Regions from separate parts of the Homo sapiens genome. Here region 2 is linked to region 1. Evidence: fine-mapped expression QTL. A gene starts in region 1. The other region holds a variant in brackets. All regions are shown on one strand. Distances are from middle to middle.

Region 1 (4,394 bases):
CTGGAGAATGACCCGTAGGAACCCCAAGAGGGGCTCTCAGGCTAGCAACGGATGCACTTCTGTCCTGCTGCACAACCAGAAGTAGATAATCTAGATGGCAGCTCTAGTCTCTCCATACCTGTGATTCCTGAAATCTGTTGAAGTGTAGGGGGTTCAACAGTATCTGCTTCATTTTAATAAAATGAGGCAATGTTTATAAGTGAGACACAGCCCAGTGACTGGCACGTACTAAGTACCAACACATATTAGCAGTTCTTAGTAGTGGTAGTATTTTTAAATCCAAAGGTAGATTGGGTCAGAGTGCTTCCAGGTGTCCTTTCTCCAGCCTGGGGGCAAATAAGTAGGCTCAAGATTAGGGCCCATCTATAGAAAGTCTGTGCTCACCTATTGGCACCTGTGCCCTATCTATTTATTTCTTTACTAATTAGTTCATTCAACACACATTTACTGAGCACTGATTGTATGTGTGCTCCTGTACTCGGCACACAAACCTCTGATCTCTGATATTCGTACAGGGCTGTGCCCTTGGCTAACACACGTAGTATTACATCAGGAAACCCCGCTTCTCATCACAGCCTCTCCATATGCCTGCTGGAAAGCTGGAGAGTTAGGGGGAGCTCTGATGATGGCCCTTGCATGCCAGAGTGTGGAATTTGGAGTCAGGCAAGTATGTATTCTTTTTACAGATAAGGAAACAGAGGTCGGAGAGGGGAGTACTTTCTCAAGTTCAGAGAGTAATTTAGTGCTGTCTGAGGCTAGAACCTTGTTCCCTGATTAGTTTAGGAAACAAGGGCCCTTTCTACCAGACCAGTTGCCTCTGCATGAGAGTGGAATAACCTGTCTTTACGTTTTCATCTACAGATAGGTGTTGTTTTCCTTTTGAAGAGCAGCATTTCAAGGTAAAATGAAGTAGCTCTTGAGTAAGTCTGAAACAGTGGCTCTCATCTCTGGCTGTATGAGATCATCTTGAGAGCATCTGAAAAAAAACTGATGTGGGAGCTCCACCCCAGACAATTACAGAAATATTTGTGAGGGTGGAGCTGGGGCCACCTATTGGTTTTTAAAGCTCCCCAGGTGTTTCTAATAGACACCCAGGGCTCCATAGTCTAATATACAATCAGTCCAATATACAGCATAATATACAGTCAGTGGTCTAGCAGCCAGTGCTTCCAAATTCTAATGCACATTTGAATCATCTAGGGATCTTGTTAAGCTGCAGATACTAATCCAGTGGTTCAAGTGCGGCCCGAGGGTTTTCATTTCCATAAAGCTTCCATGTGGTGTTAGTACTGCCAGTCTCTGGACCACACTTGGAGTAGCAGCTCCAGAAGGCACTCTGGGATTCTAGTCATCCACGTGGTCACTGGCTACTCTAGCCAGAGGCCTGGGAGTCACCTCTCTCCTTCATCCTCTCCTCATCTTCTCCCTTTCAAGCCCTTGGTCATCAGATCTTGTCAGTTCCATCACACTGCTTCTAGGAGCTCCTCTCCTTTCCTAACGGACTGGCACAATATTTTCCTCCCTGTTCCCCACCATCACTCACTGCCCTGGCTGTGCTCTTTGCTAGACCGCCTCCTGAAGGCTTTCTTATTCCGTCTTCCCTCTGTCCAAGCTTTTATTTTGATTCTGTAGAAGGCTCTTTCACTCCGTGACCCATCTCTTAAGAGACCACCGCAACCCGGGACCTGTTCTCTCCCTGCACTCTTCCCCTATGACGATTGTATAGGAACAGGGTGTCCCTCTAGTTGTTTCTGCGTTTCCAGCCCCCAGCTGAGCGCCCATCACTCTCAATAAAATACTTGTTGATTTTAACAAACAAAACCCCAACCCTGAAAGAGAAAGGCCAAACAGAGGCCTCAGCTGCATTTCTTCCGATAAAAATGAACATTCCTTCGAGATTATGCATCAGGCTTTAACTTCCCACTCAGAAAAAAAAAAAAAAAAAAGTTGATCAAATTTAACAAAGTAAGTGGTTATTTCCTGTCTGAGTTGAGTAGCTGAATACAGGCTCAAAGCAGGCGACGGGACAGGAATGAGAGGATGGATGCTGGCAGGGGCTTGGAGGTCTGCTTTCAAATCTGGGCTCGTCCCAGCAGGGGGAAAGCCTGGAGGACCGGGATAGGTTGGGGACTGCCGATGGGGAACCTCCCCGGTCCTGCGGACAGTCGGCAGCGCGGGGAGGCAGGCAGGAGTTGGGAGCGTGAACTAACTTGGCGCGGAGGGAGGTGCCGCACGCCGCAGCCGTTCAGGTTTCGCGTCTTGCGGGCGCCCACATGGGCCGCTGGCTTGCAGAAGGGGGCGGGGGAGAGGGAGGGCAGGTCCGGAGCCAAGCGGGTGGAGGAGGGGGGAGATCGAAGGAAATGAGACAACCTTTTCCTCCCACTGACTCGGGCTCCTGCAGCTTCTGCGGGGCTTGGCGCCGCCGTCCGTGAGCACCCAGGCCGGGACCCCACATCCCCAGGCCAGCCCTGACCCCGGCGGCCCCTCCGCCGGGATTCCTTTCCGAGGTACTGGTGCCGGCCCAAGACCCGGGCAGCGCTTTGTCGTGTCCGCCCCTCAGTGATCAGCTCCGGGTCCCCCTGCTCGGCCCCGCGCGCCCCAAGCGCAGTCCCCGGAAGTGCGCGCCGGGGCCCCAGCAAAGGTAAGAGGTGCCCGAGAGCGCTCCCTGAACTCTGGGGGCGCCCGGCATCCCCAGCGGGCTCCGGCTTCTCCGAAGCGCCCTCTTTTCGGAAACACCCAGAGCACTTCTGACCTGAAGCAGCTGCTTTGTTCCCAAGTCCCTGCCCAGGTGTTGTAGGCTGGGTCCCACAGGGAACTCTGCTTCCCAGCGCTTTCTTTTTTGCCTCCTCTTCCTCCCACTTTCCTGTTTCTTCTCTCGCCCCCCCTGCTTCTTTCTGGATAGAACAACTCTCAACTCCCTGCCTCTGCAGCCCAGCTTCGGAAAGCAGGTCGTTCCCAAATCTAGCGCTTCTCTCCTGTGCCTCTGGGAGCTGGGCTGAGCCTGACTGGCTTCTATCCCAAGCCTGCGCGGGGCGGACCTGCCAGAAATGTACGTGCTGCACCGTGGACTATTTACCTGGTTTGTTTCGGAGGCAGCCAACTCGCCGCGCGCATTTGGCGACCCCCAGGACCCCGAAAGCCGAGTGCATCAGGGAGTGAAAGGCTGTTGGCGCCCCCTAAAGTCCCAGTGGGACGCTTTGCTTTTGGAGAGGGGCGCGCAGACAGTCCACGCTGCTCTATCTGGGAGGTCTGCGTGGGGGTCCCCACCCCTACTATTGAGGGGTAAGGGGAGGTGTTGGCACGCAGTACGGAGCGCGTTGGGACATGGAGGAAATGAGGATGTCCTGGAAGGAGAGGAGTGCCAACCACATCGTGCTGGCTTGCCATGTTGTTCTTATTAACTGCCTGAGTTCTCATAACAAGCCTGTGTGTAGGGACTCTTACCCCTATTTTACAAACGGGCAAAATGAGATGGGGCCACACAGCTAGCTAGGAAAGGGCCCAGCCAGGATTTGGGTCCTAGCTGGTCTATACCACACATACACTTCAAGTCCAGCCCTACAGAAGATTCTTCTTTTTAGTCTGAGCAAGAACCGTCCCCCCAACTCCCCCGCCCCCCCCCCACCTCCTTTCTCATAGTACAAGGGACCAGGCTTTTTCCGTTTTGACCTAATATACCTTGATTATATTCAAACCCAAACTACTTATTATCTACTGTCCTCTGAGTTCAGCGGCAAGCACTGAGGTTTCACCTTTGAATCTTATTAATTCATCCCCTTCTTGTCATCCAGTCTGTCACGAAATGTGTAATACTGTTCAGAAGGCTGGCTTGAATCTCCTTTCCATAAAGGCAGTCAAGCGCAGTGGCTAAGAGCCCGGGCCCTGGAGTGAGACCACCAGCTTGAATCCTGGCTGGGGCCTTCCTGTACCTTTCTGTAGCTGGATTTCCTCATCTGTAAAGCAGGGATGCTAGGGCTTAAAGTAATGGTTTTCAACGGAATTTTGATTTTACTTCCCAAGTGACATCCAGCAATGTCTGGAGACATATTTGGCTGTCATCATGTAAGTAGAAGAGGATCTTATTCATCTGGTGGGTAGAGGCCAGGGATGCTGCCACATCCTGTATTGCACAAGACATCTCCCCCCTCCCCCACTCCGCTTCCAAGATTTAAGAATTATCTAGCCTAAAATGTTAATAGTGCTGAGGTTGAGAAGCCCAGGTTTAATGTTTCACTTCATGAAGAGTGCCATTATTTCCAGCTCTCATCCTTTTATCTGCTCTAGTTTGGCTGATTATACCAGTCTCTGTCCCAGTCTTTCCCTCCATTCCAGTGCCAGAATTCTGTTGCCAAATCCACAGCAGGTCATGCGGCTATATTGCCTTAGCACCCTTG
Region 2 (4,394 bases), 32 kb before region 1:
AGTATTAGCAATAAAGAGATTTTTATTGTTTGAAGCCACTGAGATTTGGGGGATGTTTGTTATGGTAGCATAGTCTAGTCTAGCCTGATTGATCTAGGCAGAGATTGTAGGCTTATCCCTCTGAAGCTTTCTCATTCTTTTGTGGCTTTGGGATTAGGATCATGCCTCTTAACCAATTTGGGTTTTTTTTTTTCTACTTCAAAGACTTATTAATGACAAAAGTCTCTCCTTATTAATGCAGGAATTAGCACTCTTTCACCCAGTAAACTTGTCAGGGGCCTGTCAGTATTCTCAGAACAACCAGTAACTGTTGAGAAAATGATGCTATCAGTTGAATGGTAGTGGCTTTTGTTTGCTTATCATGTGCAACTCATAATTATGAATGCCGGGACATAAACTAACAAAGAAAATTCTAGTTAACAGTGTTTAAAATACTTCATAGAGTATTGTCTTTTTAAAGGGCTGTCTTACAGACATGCTTCACAATTTTTCTGAAAAGCCAGTGGTGTGAGATAATCTGTCTGTCAGTGAAATTAGTGTCGTTTTCCTACCCTCAGCAAAGGTGATATTTATTAAAACTGTTTTTTAGAGATTATTTTTCTCTCTTACTTTAGTACAGAAGTCAAGACCCCTGGTAATCAAAGAGAGGAAGCACTGCGTTACCTCCTGAGTCAGCACATAGATGGGGCTGCGTCTATGCAGCTGTGACTTGTCATTGATTGCCATTCTTTTCCTTGGGGGAAGAACATAAACTTTTTTATGGCTGCTTTCTTTCATCTTTTATGCAAAAATAGCCACCAATGCTTCTTGTGTTGGTATCCTGGGTGATGAGTTTTCTTTATTCAGTTTATAGGTAATTATCTCCCTATTAGATCAATCATTTAATTTTATTTCTACATATAGAAGTTTTTACCTTTTGTACAAGTAATATGTGTATACATTCTGTTTATAAATAATTCAAGTACTGCAAATAATGCTGAAATCCCCGTTTGCCACTTCTCATTTTCCTCTCCAGGGTGAATTATATGTGTGTATCCCTTCGAATTTTTACATACATATTTACATGCACATGTGTACTTGTGAAATTATAATATTTTTATGTTTTAATTTTTCACACAAATGGAATTTATTGTATGTACTGTTCTAAAATGGCTTTATTCACTTAACATATCTTAGAGAGTTTTCCATATTGGTATAAATGGAGAAAACTCATTCTGTCTGTTTATTTTCTATAATATGCATGTGCCATATTATTTAATAATTACCCTACTCACAGACACTAAGGTTATTTCTAAGATTTTATTATTACAATAATGTGGCCACAAATGTTTTTATACACATGACTCTGTACAGATGTGAATGTTTCTCTAGAATTGATACAGAGCAATGAAATGGCTTTGTCAAAGAATCTAAAACTTTAATTTTAGCAGATATTTCCCAATCTCCCTCCAAATTGTCTGAATCATTATGTAACAACTATTTCCCCTTATTTTTGCCATCATTTTATATTAAGAAACATTTAACTCAAAGGTAAAAATATTTCATTTCAATTTTCATTTCTTCAATTAGTAGAGAGGTTAAACTGTTTCTATATTTTTATTTCTATTAATTATTTCTTTAGAAAATTTGTCTATTTTCGTATTGCATTGTTTGTCTCCTCCTCATTCTCCTCCTCTGTCTCCTTCTTCTTAACTTAAATAACAGACTTTTATTTCTCACTGTTCTGGAGGCTGGGATGTTTGAGATTAGAGTGCCAGCATGGCTGGGTTCTGATGAGGGCTGTCTTCCTGATTTGCAGATGGCTGTCCTCTAACTGTATTCTAACATGGTGGGGACAGCTTTTTCCTTTTGACTTATTG[G/A]AATTCTTTTTATATCCTGCATACTATTCCTTTCATATTCATTGCAAATATTTTCTCTGAATATGTCTCCTTTAACTTTGTCTTGTGGTTGTTTTTTCTGCTCAGCTTATTACCTCTGTTTTCCATTAGTCAGATTCATCTATTCATTGAGTTTGAGAGTGCCTCTTTTTAATGGTGCTAGCTTTTCTCACATGTTTAATGATTTGTGATTGCAAGTGATTCTTTGTATTTGTTTTTTCCTGTTAATTGCTATTCATTCATTATGTACTCACAAGTGTACATAGGATAGGGTGAGAGGCAGGAGAGAGAGGCATTCCGTGATGCTGCACTTATACTTTGTGTGTGTAGTGAGCCTAGGGAAGGGCCAATGACTGCCAGCTATGTTACTTTGATAGTTAGACTGCTTCTCTGTCCAAATGCACATACTCATTGCTCATCTCTAAGGGCAAACAGCTCTGTTGCCTAATTGCCTTGGGCAACTGACAACCCTGCAAGTATGAGAAGGAAGGGTGGGAAGGTGGGAAGTTGGAAGGAGAGGAAGATTCCATATACCTGGTGGCTCTTTCTGCGGGACCTTAAATAATAAGCCTGTTAGTGATTCCAGTATACCGTCGTCCTGTGAGTAACTGCTCCTTCCTGGTAGGGTATGCCCGGTAGAGTTATCTCACCTTTTTTATTTGCCCTCTCCTGTGTGCATGTTGCTTGTGGTTTTCTTCTTCAGTCTAATTCTATACACGTTCTATGTTTTAGTGATTTTTTTTCCCGATTTTTGGTCCACTGAGGGTACATCTTATTTTCCAGAGTAAGTTATCCTTTCTAAGAATTTGGGGTGAAGAAAGAGGTTGCCACATGTGATCTGTCAGCCATCTTGAACCAGAAGCTCAGAAGTCATCCTACCTGATTTATATTGCACTATTCAGTCAGATACTTCTGAAATATTAAACACTTCTCTTGGACAAGAAAGAACAGAAGGAGACTGGAGGGTTTGCCTCATTAATGTAAATATTCTCATCCAGGCCTAGTTCTCATCAGTCCATCTAGGCTGGACTGATTATTTAATTAAGCTAAAGAGGGTAAATAAAAGGAGGAAAACCAGACAAAGTAAAAAAAAATCCATCTTCAAATTTATCTCTGACTGTATTTTCTACTGGAATTTCCCTAAAGCCCCCATCCTGGCTTGCTTATAAGCTGCTTTTATCTATTTTGTGTCTGAATATAATTTGCATATTCATGTCTGAGTCAATTTTCAAGTTGCAACACTTCCACGGCCTTCATTCACTGATGATTCGTCTGGGAACAAAACTGTCCTTTAACAAACCTGGCTGTTAAGTGGAAACAAACAAGTCATAAATCACACAGAGCAGGTTTGGCTTGTGGCTTATGGCTCAGGGGCAGTATTTTTGTAAGTTGCTCATGCCCATGACAAATATGTGCCCTTGCAACTTCTCCTTGACCAGACCTTGCTGCATGGGGGTAGGGTAAATCCTGCTCGTGGCTATGGGCCTTGGCGAGCAGTCCTTAATTTCTCCTTTGTCTTTTACTTACTATGAGGGGGTCCAAGGCCTCTATTTTCTGATCCTGCCTATGAGAATGGGAAAGGATCAAAAATATTTACTGTATATCTCAGTCAATGTGTTATTTGATCCTGGGGTAATTTCTAGTGGGCTCCCCTTCTCCCTGATAATATATACAATACCTTGGAAAAACTTAGTTTACATGCCACAGGTGAGCCACACCAATTAAAAGAACTGGCATCTACATTTATATCAACAAAGAATATGAGCGACCCCAACTTCCATTGATCTTCTATTCACGAATTTTCTCCTGTGAATGTTTATATCTGTTTTCTCACATGGTTAGATAAGGTAAGCAAGACTGAATTTTTTTCAGGACTATACTTTCATCAGTGCTAGCTTAAGGAATACTTCAATAACTTGAAGCAGAAAATAGAAGTTTATTTTATTTAATGTAGTCAGAGGAGGTTTACTTAACTTTGTTCTCAGATCAATGATTTTGGAAAATGAATATGCCCTGAGAGACCCCATCCATCAGGCTCCCAATGACTCAAAGAATTGTATATCTTTAATGATGTGAAAAAACATCTGAACACATTAACCTTGAAATTATGAGGGAAAAGTAAAGAAGATCTGTAATTTTTTTTTCAGCACCGAGATGGAATAGAAAGACCTGTAATTTATTGAATGAAGTTGAGTATTTAGATTCAAACTGGGCATATTTTTCTTTATCAAACTGCCCTGAGTTCATTGGAAATACAGATTTGTGGAAATTGTAGATATTTCCTGGAAATGAAGTCATTGTAAAAGAGCATCCCAGAATTTTTAAAAAGATGTATATGAATCATTCTTTAATTTTGTGTAGCTGCTTTTGGAATAGAAACCTCAGGATATTCAGAACTGCTAAACATTAGCTTGAGCAGCGTGGATGTTTGCATTATAAGTACTTCGTATGCACTCTACTATAAAGACACATGCACACATACGTTTATTGCAGCACTGTTCACAATAGCAAAGAGTT

Direction of the effects. Alleles are on the strand shown, and positions count from the first base shown. SD is a standard deviation of normalised expression in the study named.
With allele G in place of A in region 2, the expression in fibroblasts of the gene that starts at base 2,382 in region 1 is lower (moderate effect, 0.64 SD a copy in GENCORD).

The links. PIP is the estimated chance that this variant, and not a neighbour inherited with it, causes the effect. A credible set is the group of variants that fine-mapping cannot tell apart.
Region 2: its variant is the best candidate, but not a certain one, in a credible set for the expression of EVA1A in fibroblasts (GENCORD, PIP 0.80).

Annotation. Positions count from the first base shown.
Region 1 is chr2:75,558,927-75,563,320 of GRCh38, reverse strand. EVA1A (eva-1 homolog A, regulator of programmed cell death) reads left to right here and starts at 2,382. Exons shown (of 4, transcript NM_001135032.2): 1 at 2,382-2,641. RefSeq lists a silencer at 2,373-2,432.
Region 2 is chr2:75,591,031-75,595,424 of GRCh38, reverse strand. No RefSeq gene overlaps it. Among named protein-coding and RNA genes, the nearest start is that of EVA1A, 32 kb to the right of the region's middle. The variant G/A (reference allele first, on the strand shown) is at 1,860.